Linked DNA regions of Homo sapiens: region 2 is linked to region 1. Evidence: fine-mapped expression QTL. A gene starts in region 1. The other region holds a variant in brackets. All regions are shown on one strand. Distances are from middle to middle. Region 1 holds the start of FIRRM (FIGNL1 interacting regulator of recombination and mitosis). Region 2 overlaps LINC00970 (long intergenic non-protein coding RNA 970).

What was found. PIP is the estimated chance that this variant, and not a neighbour inherited with it, causes the effect.
Region 2: its variant is fine-mapped to the expression of FIRRM in neutrophils (Naranbhai 2015, PIP 0.94).

What each region holds. Positions count from the first base shown.
Region 1 is chr1:169,789,538-169,798,672 of GRCh38, forward strand. FIRRM (FIGNL1 interacting regulator of recombination and mitosis) reads left to right here and starts at 5,503. Exons shown (of 25, transcript NM_001320047.2): 1 at 5,503-5,578; 2 at 6,292-6,446. It overlaps METTL18 (methyltransferase 18, RPL3 N3(tau)-histidine), which reads right to left and starts at 5,370. Exons shown (of 2, transcript NM_033418.4): 1 at 5,278-5,370; 2 at 2,992-4,360. The coding sequence starts at 4,158. The coding sequence ends at 3,040. RefSeq lists an enhancer at 5,103-5,422.
Region 2 is chr1:169,013,683-169,022,817 of GRCh38, forward strand. The region is part of intron 3 of LINC00970 (long intergenic non-protein coding RNA 970); the gene reads right to left. Among named protein-coding and RNA genes, the nearest start is that of LINC00970, 69 kb to the right of the region's middle. The variant TCCACAC/T (reference allele first, on the strand shown) is at 3,864.

The DNA of each region.
Region 1 (9,135 bases):
AGAAATGGGCAGTTTAAAGGCAGAACATAGCACATATGTGACTGGGTTTTAGAAGCAAATTTACAAGACGCACTCTTCTTCATCCTAAATAATCTGCAACCAAAGCTTCCAAAAAAGACAATTTAGGAATGCAGAGGTGAGGAGTAGGGAGGGGAATGGGATGAGAGAGAGTGGAGATTAATGGTGGGCAGAGCGAGGTTTAGAACTTAGTGGTTTCTTCAGGTTCTGAACTGAAATTTGTATACTGTAAAGGCACAAACACCATTTTTAACAAAAGTGAGCAGGACTTCCTATCTGGTTCAGAAAATAGGTGAATAAATAGTACGAATTATTAAAAATAATAATTTCCACTTATACATAGGAAACTTGATAGGAACCATGATAAATGCTTAACTCTTAATCTTCAAGGAACTCTGCTAGGGATATAATATTATAAATCTTGTTTTGCAGATGGAGAAATTGAATTTTAACCCAAGTTATCATAACCCTTAAATGATTAAATGATACTGTTACATGAGAAAGCTGCGTATCTGTTTCCTGGATTTGTAGCCATAATTTGTGTCTCAAGTCCCTTTTGCTGCCAGCTATCTTGGGTAGGTGTGTTCCCTTTGGGCTGTTTGATACCCCCACATTTATCTTTTTTTTTTCTCTTTTTTTGTTGAGAGAGTCTTTCCCTGTTGCCTAGGCTGGAGGGCAATGGCGCGATCTCGGCTCACTGCAACCTCCGCCTCCTGGGTTCAAGTGCTTCTCACGATTCTCTTGTCCCAGCCTCTCTAATAGCTCGGATTACTGGCATGCACCACCACGCCCACCTAATTTTGTATTTTTAGTAGACAAGGGGTTTCTCCATGTTGGTCAGGGTGGTCTCAAACTCCTGACCTCAGGTGATCTGCCTGCCTTGGCCTCCCAAAGTGCTGGGATTACAGGTGTGAGCCACCATGCCTGGCCCCAAATTTATCTTTAATGCCCCAAATTATCTAGTTCCCATGACTGGGCTTCTGCTTTGATCCTTTCTGCACTTGCTGGACCCTCTCCCTGGGAAATGAGATTGTGTCCTGAGCCCCTAGTTAGAGGCTATGTCTCTGCTGTTCCTGAATGGGCCTCCTGGATGAGACCTCATTAAAAGTCTAATTCTCTTGGAGAATTGAGAGATACCTATTTGTCTCAAAATCATTGAAACCAATTAATGTATTATGAGCCTCTATCCAGTGATTTGTACCTCAATTCCCCAATCCAGCTGTCAAGGCCAATTTGTTCTACCTTACCTAGTAGGTAAGTCTGGAATTGTAGCTGTGGCATTTTCAGTAATGGTACTCTAGGTTAGCAGTCCCCAACCTTTTTGGCACCAGGGACCAGTTTTGTGGAAGACAATTTTTCCATGAAGGGCTGGGCAGGGGAGTGGTTTCAGGATGAAACTGTTCCACCTCAGATCATCAGGCATTAGATTCTCACAAGGAGTGCGCAAGCTAGATCCCTCACACATGCAGTTCACAATAGGGTGTGCACTCCCATGAGAATCTAACACCGCTGCTGATCTGACAGGAGACAGAGCTCAGGCAGTAATACTCATTTGCCTACCGCTCACCTCCTGCCGTGCAGCTCAGTTCCTAACAGGCCACGGACCAGTACTGGTCCACGGCGCAGGCATCAGGGACCCCTGTTGCTAGGTATAAGCATCTGGCTGCTGCATGTCTTCTGTGTAGCTACATCTGTATGTGTATCTGATGAGATATAAATTATTTGATTATAAATTACTTTCTTCATATTAGAGTTGTGAATGAGTATCACATATAATTATACATAAACTAGGAATATGCTTTTTAATAATGTATATAAGTAAGTTTCCTTAACTATGACTTTCATCTTAGCGTAGTAAGAGGGTGCTAAGAAATATTTGTGATGAAAATAGGCATTGGTAGAGTTGAGACCACTGGGTGATGAAAGAGTGTAAAGATTTTAAAGCCTTCAGATGCTGGTTCAAGGTGAGAAATGTGATTGGGAGCAAATCAATTAACTTCTTGAAGTCTTATAGGGCAGTTATGAATACTTAATGTTAACATATGTAAAGCTCTTCTGCCCTGTATACAGTAAATGCTAGTTAGCTATTATGATCACTACTAAAATGGGGATGACATAAACCTCATAAGGTTTTAAGTATTATGCAAGATACTATACAAAGTCCAGTAAATATCACATTCAATTGAATCCATGATGTCCGATTATTTTAGCTACTTCCAAGAGAGAAAAAAATGCTGTCAGTTTTACTGTTCTTATAGAGAGCAAGGCAGATCCCAATTCCCAATGTGGTAACGTGAAAATTTTTGCATTTGAATCAACAAAACACTTTCTCCTTTCTTTCCTACTATTTAACAACTGGTAAGTCTATACTCCCCCAAATCTGGAATTCTCCTTTCTTATTCTTTTTCCTCCTACCAAGACCGCAGGATCTTTTACTTGGCTATAAGGGGTAAACCTCAAGTAGTACAAGTTCTCTGTATTACTTTTATACTCTGTCACAGATTCCCTTTGTTTCCTCATCTCCATGTGAATTTAGTTAAATTCTCAGCATTCTGATCCTTACTATACAAGGTAAATGAATATAAAAACAAAACGAAACAAAAACCTCTTCCTATTTACATAAGGCCCCAACCTAATATTTAGTGATATATATTAATGTGAACAAGGAACTAACGAAGACTGGGAAGAAATTCACAGACTTGAGAGAAGAAATGGCAGGATTTCCTGGGAACAATTTCATGTAACGTCAAAGGTGGTAAAAGGTCAAATAGAATGAAGATGGAGAATACCGGATTTTCTTACAAAATGATTTCCCAGGAGATCTCATCAAATGCACGAGGATACCTTCTCAGTTTCACCTAGTGAGTAAAAGACTGGTAACATAGCTCACTTACAATTTGGATAAACAAAACTAAACAAACAACATCAAAATTTCAGAAAAAATAATAGCAAAACAGAAATCAAACACTCAAATTTTTGGTCCTTCTGTTTATTTCATTTTGGATACTCAGTGAATGTTAATTAACCAGGAAACTTAAAAGTTATTTCAATTATGAACCTCTTCAATCCTTCATCAATTATTTTGAGTATTCTGGTCTTAAAAACATCTCTTTCTTCTACAAACTTCTGAAAGAGATGAACACCTCCACCTACACCAAAATAATGTGCTTTGCTGGCCAAAAGTACACGTCCATTTTTACTTAACAGTCTAAGGAAAGTCTGGTGCAAATTACTATAATAATCTGGGTTGTAAATGGTTTCTGAGGTGAGAATGAGATCATATTTTACAAAAAGTTTTTCACTACTTAGTACAAGCTTACAAAACTCAGACCACTCACCAGAAAAAAATCGGCATTTATATAGTTGTGTTACTTTTGGTTTCCTGCATCTTTTCACATCTGGCTCATTTACATCATTTTCTTCATCTTCCAAAGTGGAGTTAGCTACTACATTAGGTAAGGTTACTTCATCAATCACCATACTGTTATAATCTTGAAAGTGAATTTCTTTGGACCCTCCCTTGAATGCAGTTATACCTAGTAAACCTGATCCACAACCAAGATCCAAGACTTTTTTCCCAGCAAATTTCACTTTGGCCTTTGTGAAATAAGCCAGGAGGTCAAAGGTACATTCCCAGATTTTTAAGCCTCCCTCATAAACACCTGTAATCAGATCAGAGTGAGAAGAAAAGCTTTTTGAAACTATGTTTTCTCCAGGGAAGTTCTCTTTCAACAAGATGGTTTTCACTACTGATAACTTAACATGCTGGAAACCTGGTAATGTTTCTATGACTTTATTTTCTAACATCTTCTTTAAATCTTTAGGCATAGCATGCTCTTTGGCAGCTCTCAAGGAGGGCTGTTTTCCATGTGGCTCCAAGTTCCTTGAACTGCTGGCTGCACTGAGTGGACTGTCTGTGTCTTGAGAGGGAGCTGCATTTTCCATTGACTTATGTTCCCACAAGTGATCCTGAGGCAAGTCAAATTGTTCTGCAGAACATTTTCTGTCCCTCTCTTCTCCTTTTTGACTTTCTGAGACTGACAGCTCTTTTGAGGAATCCAGGGTCAAAGCTCCATCTCTAATGGGTGTTAATTCATTTTCCAGATGGTCTTCTATAGTGAAATTAAACTGAAAGGTCATCCTCTTATTAAATGCACACAATCTTTAAATTCAGATTCTTCAACTTCTGGATAGAATTTGATGATACACACAAATCTGCCTCAATTATTCAATTAGTTTTGTTGGGCCCAATTTCTCTTTAGCAGCTTATACATGGTAACAAATATTTAGAGATATTTCCAAATGACTTTTTAGACGTCTTTGGTCCTCTTTCCAAGCAGCTCTGGAAAGAAAAAAAAAAAAAAAAGAAAGAAAATGATGATTAAAGCAAAATGGCACATTTCACTAAAGTGTAATATTAAACAGCCACCCCCACCCCTCCCTGTCCCACCATACAGCTGCTTTTTCTTAAAAAGTTGTGGGGAAGAGAGAGAGATAAGAGATTTGGACACTCATACACACCTTAAGGGTTCCAAAGTGGGAGAAGAAAATCAACTATAAAAACAAACAGAAGAACAACAGCAACCACCACCACTACCACCTGGACAAACATAAAGTCCAAGATATTCAGACAGGACAGCCTAGCTACTTGCTGTCTTTCAGCTGTCTTGATTTGTGTCCAACCATATTCACCCCCTAAGCTTCCAGAATAACTTCACTTCTGTCTTTTACAGAAGAGGTGCAGTATTTTATTTTGGTAAGTCAGCGTCCCTTTAAAAACATGCATAGGTATGGCCTGGTGTGTGTAAATTCATCCAAGACTTCACTCCAAACATTTAGTCGAGAACAGCAGCCCTAAGTGTATAGAAGTGGGGGTAATTTGGCAATAATTAGTAAAGACTAATTCGGTGGCAGAGCAAACGCAAACTAGGGCACTGCAGTAGTTTGGAGAGACCTGTAGAAATAAGAAGCAACTTTATTGAGAATCTTCTATCTACTGCGCTAGACACTATACCATCTGCCTCAATTTTCACAGTTCTGGCAAGTGGGATCTTTGTTCCCTTTATACAAGATTTACAATTTGGGGGAGAGGCGGGTCACCCAGTCCCGCGGCTAGGAACGCGCCTCTTTCCTCTCCCATCACGCTGCAAGGCTTGGAGTCACTTCCGGCTGCAGGTCCCGGAACAAATCCGACCCCAGAAGTGGGGACTTCTGGCCCTCACCTCCCCATTTGAATGTAATGTTTACAGTGATCCAGACCTGGGGATGCTTGCTTCCCGACGTGTCCTGGGATCGCGCTTCTGAAAAAGCTCACCTCACAACGCCTCCTCCGGACCTAAATCGCGCACCAGTGAGTCGAGTCCTCCAGGGGCTAGAGAAGCCCGACTTTCTTTCCGGCCTTGAGGGACCCGGGCTCACCAAGAAACCAGCCGCCCTCCTCTCTATGGTTTTGGAGCCGGCGGAGAGCGCGCAAGGGTTGGCGGGACTGCGAGTTTCCGGTCTGGGCTTTGGCGGGTCTGGTTTGAAGCTCTCCTGTTTGACGAAAGTATGTCTCAGGAAGGTGCGGTCCCAGCTAGCGCGGTTCCCCTGGAAGAATTAAGTAGCTGGCCAGAGGAGCTATGCCGCCGGGAACTGCCGTCCGTCCTGCCCCGACTCCTCATATCCTTCCTTGGTTGTCACTTCTACCTAGAGAAGGGTGTGGGCGGGTCGCGAACCTTTCTCTTCTGTCCCTTCAGACCCACCGCCAGGCTGGGTTATATTACCGCGGCCTGAACCCCCTCTTTTCTTTGTCAGTGAGTGGGATGAAAAGTGAGGGACTGGAGGGGAAGCGACAACCGTGGTAGATTTAAGTAAGGCTTTGGCCCTGGAAAGCCTCGCGGACGTGTTCTGACCCAAGGTTTTAGCAGTGGATGTGGCGTTTTCTTCCATTCCTTCTTTCAGTTTTTCTGTACTCGTTGCTTGCAATTAAGTGTAAATACTTTTGCTAGTGGATAATGGGGGAGGCAAGGACTGAGACCTGCGGTATGACGATAGCTCTGGCTCTTAATAGTTTGAGGTAAAGCGAGATACTCTGAGCTTTTGTCTCCCGTAAAAAGGGTGGTGAATATGAATAAGGGCTTTCTTAGCGTTATAAGAATTAAAGGGCATAGTTCTGTGGTGTGAAATCTTTAAAAGATGTTCAGTAAATAAAAATGATTTTCCTCCTTCCCCTCTCAGACCTCTTTTTCTTCTTTCTTTCTTTTTTTTTGACAAGTTCTCACTCCTCTCACCCAGGCTGGAGTCTTTCTGAAAGAGTTCTTCCGCTTGTTGTTGGCTTTCAACTGTTGGATTTGAGGCGCTTAGCGCCTTCTTCGTCCGGGTGCAGCACATTCTTGATTGGTCTCATGCCTTTGTGGTTGTAAATGTGCCTGGAATCCTAGCCTTTCATGGTAAACCATATGTATATGTATCTTTTTCACAACATTTGAGCCCAGCTTTATACAATTACACTCAAAAGAAAAAAAGTAACCTTCACTTGAGAGAATCTCAATACTGCACAAATATTGTGCAGCTAAAGCCCTATGTAATCACATAGAAGTCATTCACCTAGGCATTAGCAAAATCTCAGAAGGTGCCAAAGCCCCCTTTTTTAGTTTTTGTGTAGGTACAGAACTGCCGTCTTCAAGGAGTTTCAACTTGAAAACAAATAGCCACCCTCAAAACATTCAAAAACACTTAAACTGCGTGCATAATGTGTGTGAGACATGGTGTTAGGCTTTGGGAGAACAGAGACACGGAACGTGATTCCTCTTCTTCCCCACAAGCTTATAGAGAGACTTCATTAAGTTGAAAGTCAACATTCCCACCTAGCTTTGCACTTCAAACGACATATTCAAAAAAGCCCAAACTTCCTCTAGTTTTCTTCATCTGAGTAAATGGTTTCACAAACTGAAACCTTGAATCCTCTCTGTCTCACACACCCGATCAGTAAGTTCTATTGTTTCTGATTCCAAACTATGTCTTGAATCAATCCGTTTATCTCCATCCTCATTGCTACCACTCTGATTCCAAACCCTTATCACCTCTCACTTGGAGTATTAATAGTTTCCTTGTTTCTACTCATAATTCATTATTCCAAAAAAGTTAAGAGGGGAAAAACATAGATCTCGTCATTTCCCTTTTTAAACCACTTTACCTTCAAGGTTCCAGGTGATCTAAGCCTTGCCCTTCTCTCATACCTAGTTAATTAACTACACTCTGTTCATGAATACATTAGGCTCACCTACCTCAAGATCTTTTTGCTCAGCCTGATTTGTTCTCTCAGCCTTTTGCATATTTCATGTTTATGTCTTGGCCCAAATGTCACTTCCTTAGAGGGGCTTTTTCAGAGCCTTCAATCTTAGGCAGTTCCCCCAAACGCAGTCTTACACTTGTATCACATTGGCCTGTTCAGTTTTCTAAAAAGCACATTACCATTAAAAGAAATGCTCTTGTTTGCTTTGTATATTTTCCACTTCTACACATTATGTTGCAAAGTTCATAAAGGCAGGATGTTGATTTTCTTCACAGCGTTACCCTCAGCACCTAGAACAGTGCCTGACACATAGTAAGCATTCATTAAAGGGCTAAAAATATTTCATGTTTTAAAAATACTTGGGAGTCTAATTAGACAATACTTTTTTTCAGCTTAATGGTAGTATTTTAGCTTCACTATTTTAACAAATGAAAAATTTGCAATAAATCTACAATGCCATTACCCCCCAAAATCTTTTTCATGTTTTGCATTTTACGTATTATTTTCCAGGCCTTACCTGCATGTCTGCATAATCATAACTGACTAATTTTGGAACAGCTGGTAATTATTTGAGCTTTACTGAAATTTTTTCATGAGGCCAATTCTACCCTACTGAACTCAAATTTGAGTTAATGATGACCTCATTTTGATTGCTGCTGTAAAAAATAAGATTTCGGAAGAGGAATGAATTCTTGTATTACTGTGGTAGGACTATGGGTTTTTTTTTGTTTGTTTGTTTGTTTTGAGACGGAGTCTCACCCTGTCACCCAGGCTGGAGTGCAGTGGTGCGATCTCAGCTCACAGCAGCCAGGTTCAAGTGATTCTCCTTCCTCAGCCTCCCGAGTAGCTGAGATTACAGGCACGTGCCACCATGCCCGGCTAATTTTTTGTATCTTTAGTAGAGATGGTTTCACCATGTTGGCCAGGCTGGTCTCGAACTCCTGACCTCGTGATCCGCCTGCCTCAGCCTCCCAAAGTGCTGGGACTACAGGCGTGAGCCACCGTGCCCGGCCGGGTTATTCATTTTTCTTATTAACATTCTTTGATGATTCTTATGGTGTTGTTACAGTAAAACATTTCTAACAATTATTCTAACAATTATTCTTGATGGTGTATATGAAGAATTTATTGTCGTGTATTTGTAAGCTGCTATGTGCAGAAGAATTTCAGTCAAATAAAGTTGGTAAGATAGGTATGTAAGTAATATGAAAAAAGATAGAAGGTGATGAGTGACTTAGGTATAAATTAAGTACAATAGAAATGTTGAGGAAAGAAAAATTTCTTGTAATAGAAATCGGAAGTACAAACTGGGCATGGTGGTGTGCATCTCTAATCCCAGCTCCTTGAGAGGCTGGTATGGGAGGATCACTTTAGCCCAGGAGCTTGAGGCTGCAGTGAGGTGTGATCATGTCACCGCACTCCATCCTGGGTGACAGCAAGACCGTCTCTCTTTTTTTTTTTTTTTGAGACGGAGTCTCGCCTATGCTGGAGTGCAATGGCGCGATCTTGGCTCACTGCAACCTCTGCCTCCCAGTTTCAAGTGATTCTCCTGCCTCAGCCTCCTGAGCAGCTGGGATTACAGGTGTGCGCCACCATGCCCAGCTAATTATTTTGTATTTTAAGTAGAGACGGGTTCTCACCATACTGGCCAGGCTGGTCTTCAACTCCTGACCTCTTGTTCGCCCATCTAGGTCTCCCAAAGTGCTGGGATTACAGGTGTGAGCCACCCCACTTGGCCCCGAGCGAGACCCTCTCTCTAAAAAAAAATAAATAAATAAATCATAAACCTGTGGATTATTGTAGCATTGTTTCTCATCTGTCAAAAATATTTCATGACTATGCAT
Region 2 (9,135 bases), 780 kb before region 1:
GCAGCAGAATTAAATATTCTGGCTCTATTAAATCTCCTTTGTTCATTGTGTTGCCTCCAAGCCCCTTGCCCACAGGCGGCCTAAGAGGTGAACATCGCTTTAGAGTAAATGTCATTAATAGTTTGAATCTCATACTACAGCCTGAAGAAATGGTGAGGGGAGCTAACATTGACTAAGCACCTCGTGTGTGCTGAGCCCTTTCATATGCTACCTGCCATGGGCTGAACTGTGAGCCCTCCATCTCTGTACGTGGACGCTCTGATGCCCAGTAACTGGGAATGTGACTGTATTTGGAGATGGGGCCTTTAAAGAAGTAATTAAGTAAAATGCAGCCATATGGGTGGGCCCTAATCCAATATGACTGGTGTCCTTATAAGATTAGGACATAGACAACACACAGTCCGAGGAGCAGCCATGTGAGGACACAGTGAGAAAGTGGACTTATGCAACCTGAGGAGAGAGGCCTCAGAAGACATCACACCTGCCAACACTTTGTTTCTTGGGCTCCCAGCCCCCAGAACTATGAGAATATAAATTTCTGTTGCTGAAGCCACCCAGTCTGTGGTATTTTGTTATGGTAGCCCTGGCAAACGAATATATTACGTCATTTTATTTTTATAGTATCTCTATAAAAATAGGCATAATGTCCATGTTCAAGATGATTGACCAGAAGCTTAGAAAGGTAAAGTAACTTTACAAAGGTCACAGAGCCAGGAAACAGGAAAGCCAAAACCTAATTCTAAATTCTCTTTTTTTACACCCTACCTGGCCTCTCAGACCACACTCCATTCTAGCCCAGAAACTTCCCCTGTGCCTTATTCCAAAACCCCTGGCATAGACATTCCCCTGAGAATGTCAACATTCCCAGAGAGCATCACACAGGAGCCTGTGCCGAGAATTTCGAAGACTCTAGACTGGGCAGGCTGCTTGAGTAAGATGAGATGCCATGCTAACTGCAATATTTCTAGAAAGGCAAGGAGGAGACAGACTTCTCAGCCCTTCTTTGAACCACAGGCTTTTAAGTTAAGGAATTTCTCACGTCTTTCTTTTGAGGAGAGTTTACCACATTTTCTGGGTTCATAAGACTCAACTGATAATTGTGATTTTTAGCTGGAAAATCTCCCAGATAGCTCTTTGCATATCTGCTTGCTACCTAATCAACATTAGTATGGCTGCTGAAAATACTCAATTTGCAAGTTACATGATCCAAATGTGCAAAATAATAACGATAATAACTTTCTTTACTCTTCTGTAACTCAACTTCTGTTTTATGCACCAATTCTGCCTATTGGCAGAAACTTGATCACGTCCCCTGAGGTAAAAACACTGGTCACTTCAAATTTAAACATGATCATTTCCATATTCCGCTCCCCCATCTTCCTCACCCTTAGGTGGCATCTACATTCTAGGGGTCTGCATGGCATGATGGCCTGGGACACATGGGACCTCTGCTTGTTGGCAGCCATCCATGCTACCCTCATTCATTCATGGACACCTGTCCCCACCAGCACTTGCTGGAAAATCTAAGACTCTTGGATTTTAGCCCTTGGTGCATCTGGGTCTCTCTGTTTCTGCCTCATCCAGGTTTCAAAGTATACAGCCCATCACTTGGTTAACTTTGAGCCCTTCTTAACCACCCAGGAGATTATTTGGGCCCTTCCTCCTGATGTGCCATCGAGACAGGAGGAGGGAGACTCAGAAGGGCTGTATCTCCCCAGCTACCAAGACCCATACAGCCCTCTCTCTCCCTCTACTCCACCTCCAGAGGCATGGTGGCCACCTCCTACAGCAAAAGGTGGCCTTGGCTCTCAGATTCCTAGCGCCTCACGTCGTTTCATCCCAGAGTGGGAGGCCAGACTCAGAGGCCCCTTCCACAGCCACCGAACTTGGCTCTGGGGTCTCCTGTTCCCATCTAACTAACTCTCCTCTCTCCCCACCCAGCCACCCTGAACTGGTCTCTGAGGGAGCAGGGCTTTTGCTGGCTCAGCATTTCTCTATCTGCTGGTTTCAAACAGATTATTAAAAGGGATTTGACTCTTGCAAATCAAAACCTCAGCTCTTAAGATAACTGTTTCTGCTTCAAGTTTAAGAATATCTAAGCCCTGATTCCTACCTCAGAAATGGACGTAATTATACCTACTTTACAGGAAAATTATAAGAATAAAGCAATCTATTTTGGAATACGAAAGCCAGGAATGTAACTCATTACTGTCAATAGGTGGACACCTCAACTGATACAATCTCAACTGTTGAAATCTCACCTGATACAATCAGGTTACTAAATGAATAGAGGGTAAGTTCAAGGATGGCAAGGGATTGCAAAAAGAGAAAAATGCTCAATTATTTTCTCTAAATATTATCCCCACTCTATTAGATTTCTCTGTCACTTGTGGAGTGGGAGATTATTTTCAGCCGTCTTCTCCCTGCTAAACCAGATACCTGCTTAGAGTGCAACACCTTTGTTTAACAGTTGCACACTTTGCCCAGAGACCCACAGGTCTCCCTTGATTCATTCAGGTTTCTGCTCAAATGTCCCTGTTTCAGTGAGGCCATCCCTGATCCCCTCTCCCAAAAAGCAATGGACTTTGACTGCTTTGCTCAATGTCAAATATTCAGTGACTGGAACACTACCCTGCATGCAACAGACACTCTATAAGAATTAATTAAAGGAAGAAAGTAGGAAGAAAAGGAGGCAGAGAAAAGCCAGGCTGGCTATCACCCTGACTCCCTGGCATCTCAAACCTCACAATGCACTAGCTATGGGACCCACAGAGTCTTGAAAGGGTGCTTCCCAAAGTTCCTGTGTCCTTCTTCTCCCTTTCTCCTACTCCTGCTGCAAACAGCACAGTTCTCAAAACAGCAGCCATGGCCCTTCCCTAAATGGCTTTCTCAGAGCGTTTCACCCTACAGAGAGAGCCTGGTGCTCTCTACACTTCTCAACCCAGAGGTCACTGGGCAGGATTACCCCAAACCTGTCTCTCTTCTGCCTCCCCAGAATAAAGCAAACAGAAACATGTGGAGCCAGGAACTGGGGTCATCGAGGGATGCAACATTTTACTTTCTTGTGGCAGGCTGCTCCCCACCTTGAAGTCTGCATGCTGGCCCAGAGCCAGAGGAAGTAAAGCCCCAGCACTCGACCATGCAGGGACAGCCAACTGCCCTGCCAAGGGGCCAGCTCGTCCTGGGGCTCCCTTGCACACCAGGCTCCAGCTACTGCCCCACATCCTTTCATCTTCCATTCTCACTGGGCTTTTGTACACATGGCCTCATCTCCCTAGAATGTCCTTGCCAACCTCATTTGCCTGGCCAACTTTTCCTCCCTTCCAGGACTCAACCCAAATATCAAACTTCCCGGACATCCACCTCCTCCTTAGTCTGAACTGGTCCTCCATCCTCTCGTAACCCCTGTATTCTGCTATATCCTTAGTTATCACTGTGCACTGTAACTGTAACTTGCCTCCCCCACTTGCAAATGAGGCTATTGAAAAATAAAAGCTATGTCTTATTTCTTGTGTATCTCCTGTCCCTAACCCCAAGTCTGACACACAAAGACATAGTGCAAATAAATGAAAGTCTGGTCATTCATTTATTCATTCCACAAATATTGGACCAGGCACTGTACTTGGTGCCGAGGGTACAAGAGTAAAAAGGCCTGAGAGTATGAATCTGTCACCTCAAGGAGTCTGTATCCTAATAGGGGTGAGACAGACAATACCAAGTAGATAAATAATTGTAGATAATTATAATTACAGATTTATTATTATTATAGATTATTGAGTCATTATAGATCATGATCTATTAGTAGTAGAGAAATAATTGTAGATTAATATTTGAGAGTGCTCACTCTGTGCCAGAATATCAGG[TCCACAC/T]CCACACCCACACCCACACACACACATGTACACAAAGTACAAGTGGTTACACACCCATTTATTAGATTATATTGGACAAAGAAGACAAGCTTTGGCTGATTCTCAACCTTGCCCAGGGCACAGTGTGTTAGACTCTCAGTTGAAGAAAATAAACAGGGTTCTTTCATCGACATCAACAGAAGGCTCTTACTTCAGGAAGGGGATCAGGGGAGGCATGGAAGAATGAACGAGTGAGTGAATGAGATTACAAACACAACATACCTGGGTCCAGAATGCAGATGGTTGCTAGAAGCCCCCTTATCTCGGGAGAGTTTCTGACACCTCAGGATCCATTTGGCAGTTGGGATTTAAGATTAGCTCTATACGCAGATGACAGGGCAGATTCATTTCCCCAAAGCTCCCCTTTCCAATGCTTATCTTCGGGGTCAGTGAGAGAGAGAGGACTGGGATTCTGGAAACACAGTCAGAATAAAATGCAGCCATTCCTGAGAGCTCACTGTGTTGAAGCCCTGAGGCTGGCCTTGGGGACACCATTAAAAGACCTATGGAGCTCTCATTCAACCCCACCCCAGTCCTACCTGGGGGAGGCACAGGTGTAAACATCTAATGAGGCAATAGGAGAACGTCACAGGGGTGTGTGCAATGGCAGCAGATCACAGAAGACAGGCAGGTTCTTTCTGCTTGGATGGAGAGGGCAGTGAGCAGAGGGAGACAGGGAAAGCTTCTGAAATTTATTCTGAGCTGGGCCTTGACTGGAAGATGAACAGAAAAGAAAGTGAACAAGAATATTTCAAGTGGAGAAGAGAGCATGAAGAAAAGCAAGCAAGGATGGAAGCACAAGGGGTGATGAGTGATGCTGAGTGGTGGTGGAGAAAGGTAGAAGGAGAGGATGGGTCTCAAGGTTTGCTAAGGCCACATACCCTCTGATTCTAAAATGCAGCTTGCAAAGGGTCAGGAAACTCCGACTCAAATTCAGAGACAGCATCTGCAAGAAATGTCTAGTAAAATTCTCTGCCCTGGAAGGTGGGGCAGGGACAACAGGGCAGCCCCTACTCCCAGGGCTGTCCCAGTCTTAAAGAATACAGCTATCTGGGGTGAGGGGAATACTGGGAATTCAAAGAAAGGAAATATGGAAATGGAGTTGGTTTCTGCCTTATTCAGACCAACAAGAAAGGAGAGTCACCCCAAGTTCAGGCCTCAGGTGCCATGACACCCATCCACTGATGCACCTTCTCACAGACAGCACTGTTTGGGGGTGGGAGTACCGGGCAAATGAGAGCTCCCAGGTGAGGACCCTTCAGGAGCTCTCCCAGGTGCCGTCCTGCCCCCTGGAGCTTATGAAATGTGCCACACCTCCTGCAACAGGTGCAGGAAACCGCCAAACAGAGGGTTTAGAAGCAACAGCACTTCCTGGGCCTCCTAAGAACCCAGTCCGCACCCAACAGGGTGGCATCTGTGCTCTCCAGGGGAGGGAGAAATTGCCTGCAATCATCCTTCCAGGTGTTCTGCCACAAAGACCTCCTTGTGAGACATCCAAAAGGCCAAATCTATAACCTACCTTAAAGGGAAATCATGATAAATACAGGCAATACAGCAAATACAAGACGATTTCCTAATAATAAAAAATAATACCGAAAATGCACTGAGTGCTTTCTCTGTGCCAGAGTGTAAGTGCACACATGCATATGCTCGGACACCAAGTATAAATGCTGATATGCCAGCTTGTTAGGTTATACTGGACAAAGCTTTGACTGTTTCTCAATCTTGCCCAAGATACGTTCCCACTGGGAATTCTGACTTCTGTATCTTTGTGTGAGGGACATCTGGGGAAAGCCTCCCTTCCTGCAGGATTAAGATTCCTCACCTGTAAGATATATTAACTGTTTTCTTAAAAAGTCTCAAGTCTGCCAAATGGAGGACACACAAAGTTTCTCAGAGTAAGTGCTCAGGAGAAGGTGTGGGGGAGTGTCTATGCAACAGTGTACACCTGCTTCCCAGTAGCTTATTAGCTCACCCACACCCAGGTCACAGGGAAGGTAGGGGACAGGTGCTCATGGGGCTCCCTGCCCTGCTTTGCCAGTGCCTTGGGCTCCTTGATCTGCTTCCTCAGGGAATTTCCCATGTCATAAATCTGCACCCTTCCCTCTCCCCACCACCCCATCCATCCTCTGAGCTGAGCTCTCCATATCCTTGCAGTCTAGCTTCGGGGTCTCTGAGCCCCCCAGGTGTGTTCTGAACTGCATTCTCTGATCAGAACTCAGCTCTCTGAGCACCTGGGCTCGACTCATTGCCTTTGGCTCCTCCTGCATATCCCAGCACCACTTTGGAATGGGCTGGGTGGGACAGAGAGCAAGGGAAAGAGGAAATAAAAAACAGAGAAAGAAGAAAAGAGAGACAAATAATGAAAGCACAAAAGAGCAGCAAAGAGAAGGGGAGAGAAGAGGAAGAGGAAAAACGCTCAGGCAGTCAAAAGATGAAGAGTCAGGGACAGAAAGTAAGGCCACAGGAGAGTCAGCTGGGAGACCCAGCAGGGTGTTAGGGAGAGGACTAATTGTCAGAGGCAACTGCAAAAATCTGCACTTGTCCTAGGCTAGTGGTCATCAAACTTGAGTGTAAATAAAAATCACATGCTCGTGAAAATACAGATTTCTAGTCCATGTTCCAGGGTTCTGATTCTTTAGGCATGTGCGGGGTCCTATAAATCTGTACTTTTTAAAAATAACCAGCCCAGGAGCTTCTGGGGGAGGTTTTGGGAAATACTGATGTCCATTCTCAGGAGGGCACTTTGTGGCACACGAAACTCTGAGGAAATTCTCCTCAGAATTTGATATCTCCTCAGAATTTGATATTTTAAATGCTCGAGTTTGGAACTCAACTGTCTTGGACTATGCAAGCAACAGGTGGGCTCCAGGAGTGGCCCGATTCTGCTCTCCAGGTAACTGCCTGAATCTGGGAGGATGGCAGGTGCTCTCTGATGGACAAGTCTCTCCTCTGGGATGTAGACAGTTAGAATAGAGGGTCTCCAAGGACCTTTTCATCTAGAAGAAACCCACCAGTCTCCTGAAATGTGATGCCCATCTTGATCTAACTAGATAGACACTTATATTCTGAGGTCAAAACTTGACCAAATGTTCATTCTCCAGCCATAGGTGTTAGACAATACAAGTGCCTTTTTAAAAAAAGAAATATTAAGGCTAGGCATACTGGCTCATGTAATCCCAGCATGTTGGGAGGCCAAGACAAGAGGATCACTTGAAGTCAGGAGTTCCAGACTAACTTGGGCAACATAGTGAGACACCATCTCTTAAAAAATAAATAAATAAATAAATAAATAAATAAATAAATACATAAATACATAAAAATTAAATTAGCCAGGCATTCTGACACATACCTGAAGTCCCAGCTACTCAGGAGGCTGAAGCAGAAGGATCTCTTGAGCCCAGGAGTTTGAGGCTTCAGTGAGCTATGTTTGTGCCACTGCACTCCAGTCTGGGTGACAGAGTGAAATCTTGCCTCTAAAAAAAATTAATAAATACATAAAAAAAAAGTAAGAACTGATTTTGTTTTTATGAACTCCTTTAAATTGAAGTTAATGCCAACAGGCTTAATTATATGTATAGTATTTTACAATTTTCCTCAAGTATTTCTAATTCCTTACAAGGATGACTATTTTGTATTTTAAAGTATTTTTTTAAGAGAAGATGACCAAGTGTGTGTTATAGCTTGGTTATCTTATGGGCTGGTGAGTGTAGTGTGTTTGATATAAATAAGTTAACTCTTAGAATGCCAAGGTTTTTTTAAAACTTTTATTTTAAAATAAAAAGAGTACAAATGCTGGTGTGCTACATAGGGAAACTTGTGTCATAGGGGTTTGTTGTGCAGCTTTTTCATCACCCAGGTATTAAGTCTAGTACCCTTTAGGTATTTTTCTTGATCCTCTCCCTCCTCCTACCCTTCACCCTCCAAAAGTCCCCAGTGTCTTTCTTCCCCCTTATGTGTCCATGTGTTCTCACCATTTGGCTCCCACTTATAAGTGAGAACATGCAGTATTTGGTTTTCTGTTCCTATGTCAGTTTGCTAAGGATAATGGCCTCCAGCTCCATCCATGTTCCTGCAAAGGACATGATCTCATTCCTTTTCATGAATGCCAAGGTTTTCATTCCATCATCTTCTGACAGATACCTTCTAAATTATGATGCTAACATTTCTGCCTTGGGAAAGGGGACTTACTAGATTAACTCCTCTGCCTTATTTGTAAAGCCCAACATTAACCCTATAATAGCTCATTTCTCTTCTGCAGCATCACTTCCAGCTGCCCCATGAATAAATCTTCCACTTCATTTATTCTTCCCTCTGTACCTTTGCCATTGGACCTTCAATCTTCTGGAATGCCCTCCTTGATGTTCAGCCCACCTAAAACTCCCTGTCCATCAAAAGTCCCAAGAGCCAGTAACATCTCTCTAATCTCTAGGTCCCATACACAGCCCTTAGTAAGCATTCAGCAAATATTTGCTGAGTGAATGAATAATTCTCTGTTCCCCACACACACACAGGTTGGATTTTCCTTCTTATAATTAGAAACCCCTTTTACTAATATTTTATCTCTCATACTACATTTTTTTCAATGAATTATTATACCCATGTCACCTCGTAACTTGAAAAAAAACAAAAGGAAACAAAATGGCCAGGCATGGTAGCTCACACCTGTAATCCAAGCATTTTAGGAGGCCTAGGCAGGCAGATCACTTGAGATCAGGAGTTCAAGACCAGCCTGGCCAACATGGCGAAACCCCATCTCTACTAAAAAATACCAAAAAAAAAAAAAAAAAAATTAGCCAGGTGTGGTGGTGTGCACCTGTAATACCAGCTATTCAGGAGGCTGAGGCAAGAGAATTGCTTGAACCCAGGAGGCGGAGGTTGCAGTGAGCCAAGACCATGCCACTGCACTCCAGCCTGGGCCACAGACTGAGACTCTGTCTCAAAAATAAATAAATAAATATTATTGTTGCTAGTGAATCCTGGGATACTTGAAGGGATAACCTTTGCCTGCAGATCAATCCTAAAATCCATGAGAGGTCCTTGGCCTGATTTCCAAGGTCACCTATAATCTCCATCTACTCTGCATGCCCAATCCTTTCTCCCAGTAGTTCCCAACACATTTGGTCTGCCACTTCTACACTGACTCTTCAACCCTTCATGTGTCACCCTTAGTGCTCCCTCTTTGCTTTGCTCACACCAGTCACCCATATCCAAAGTACCCTTTTAC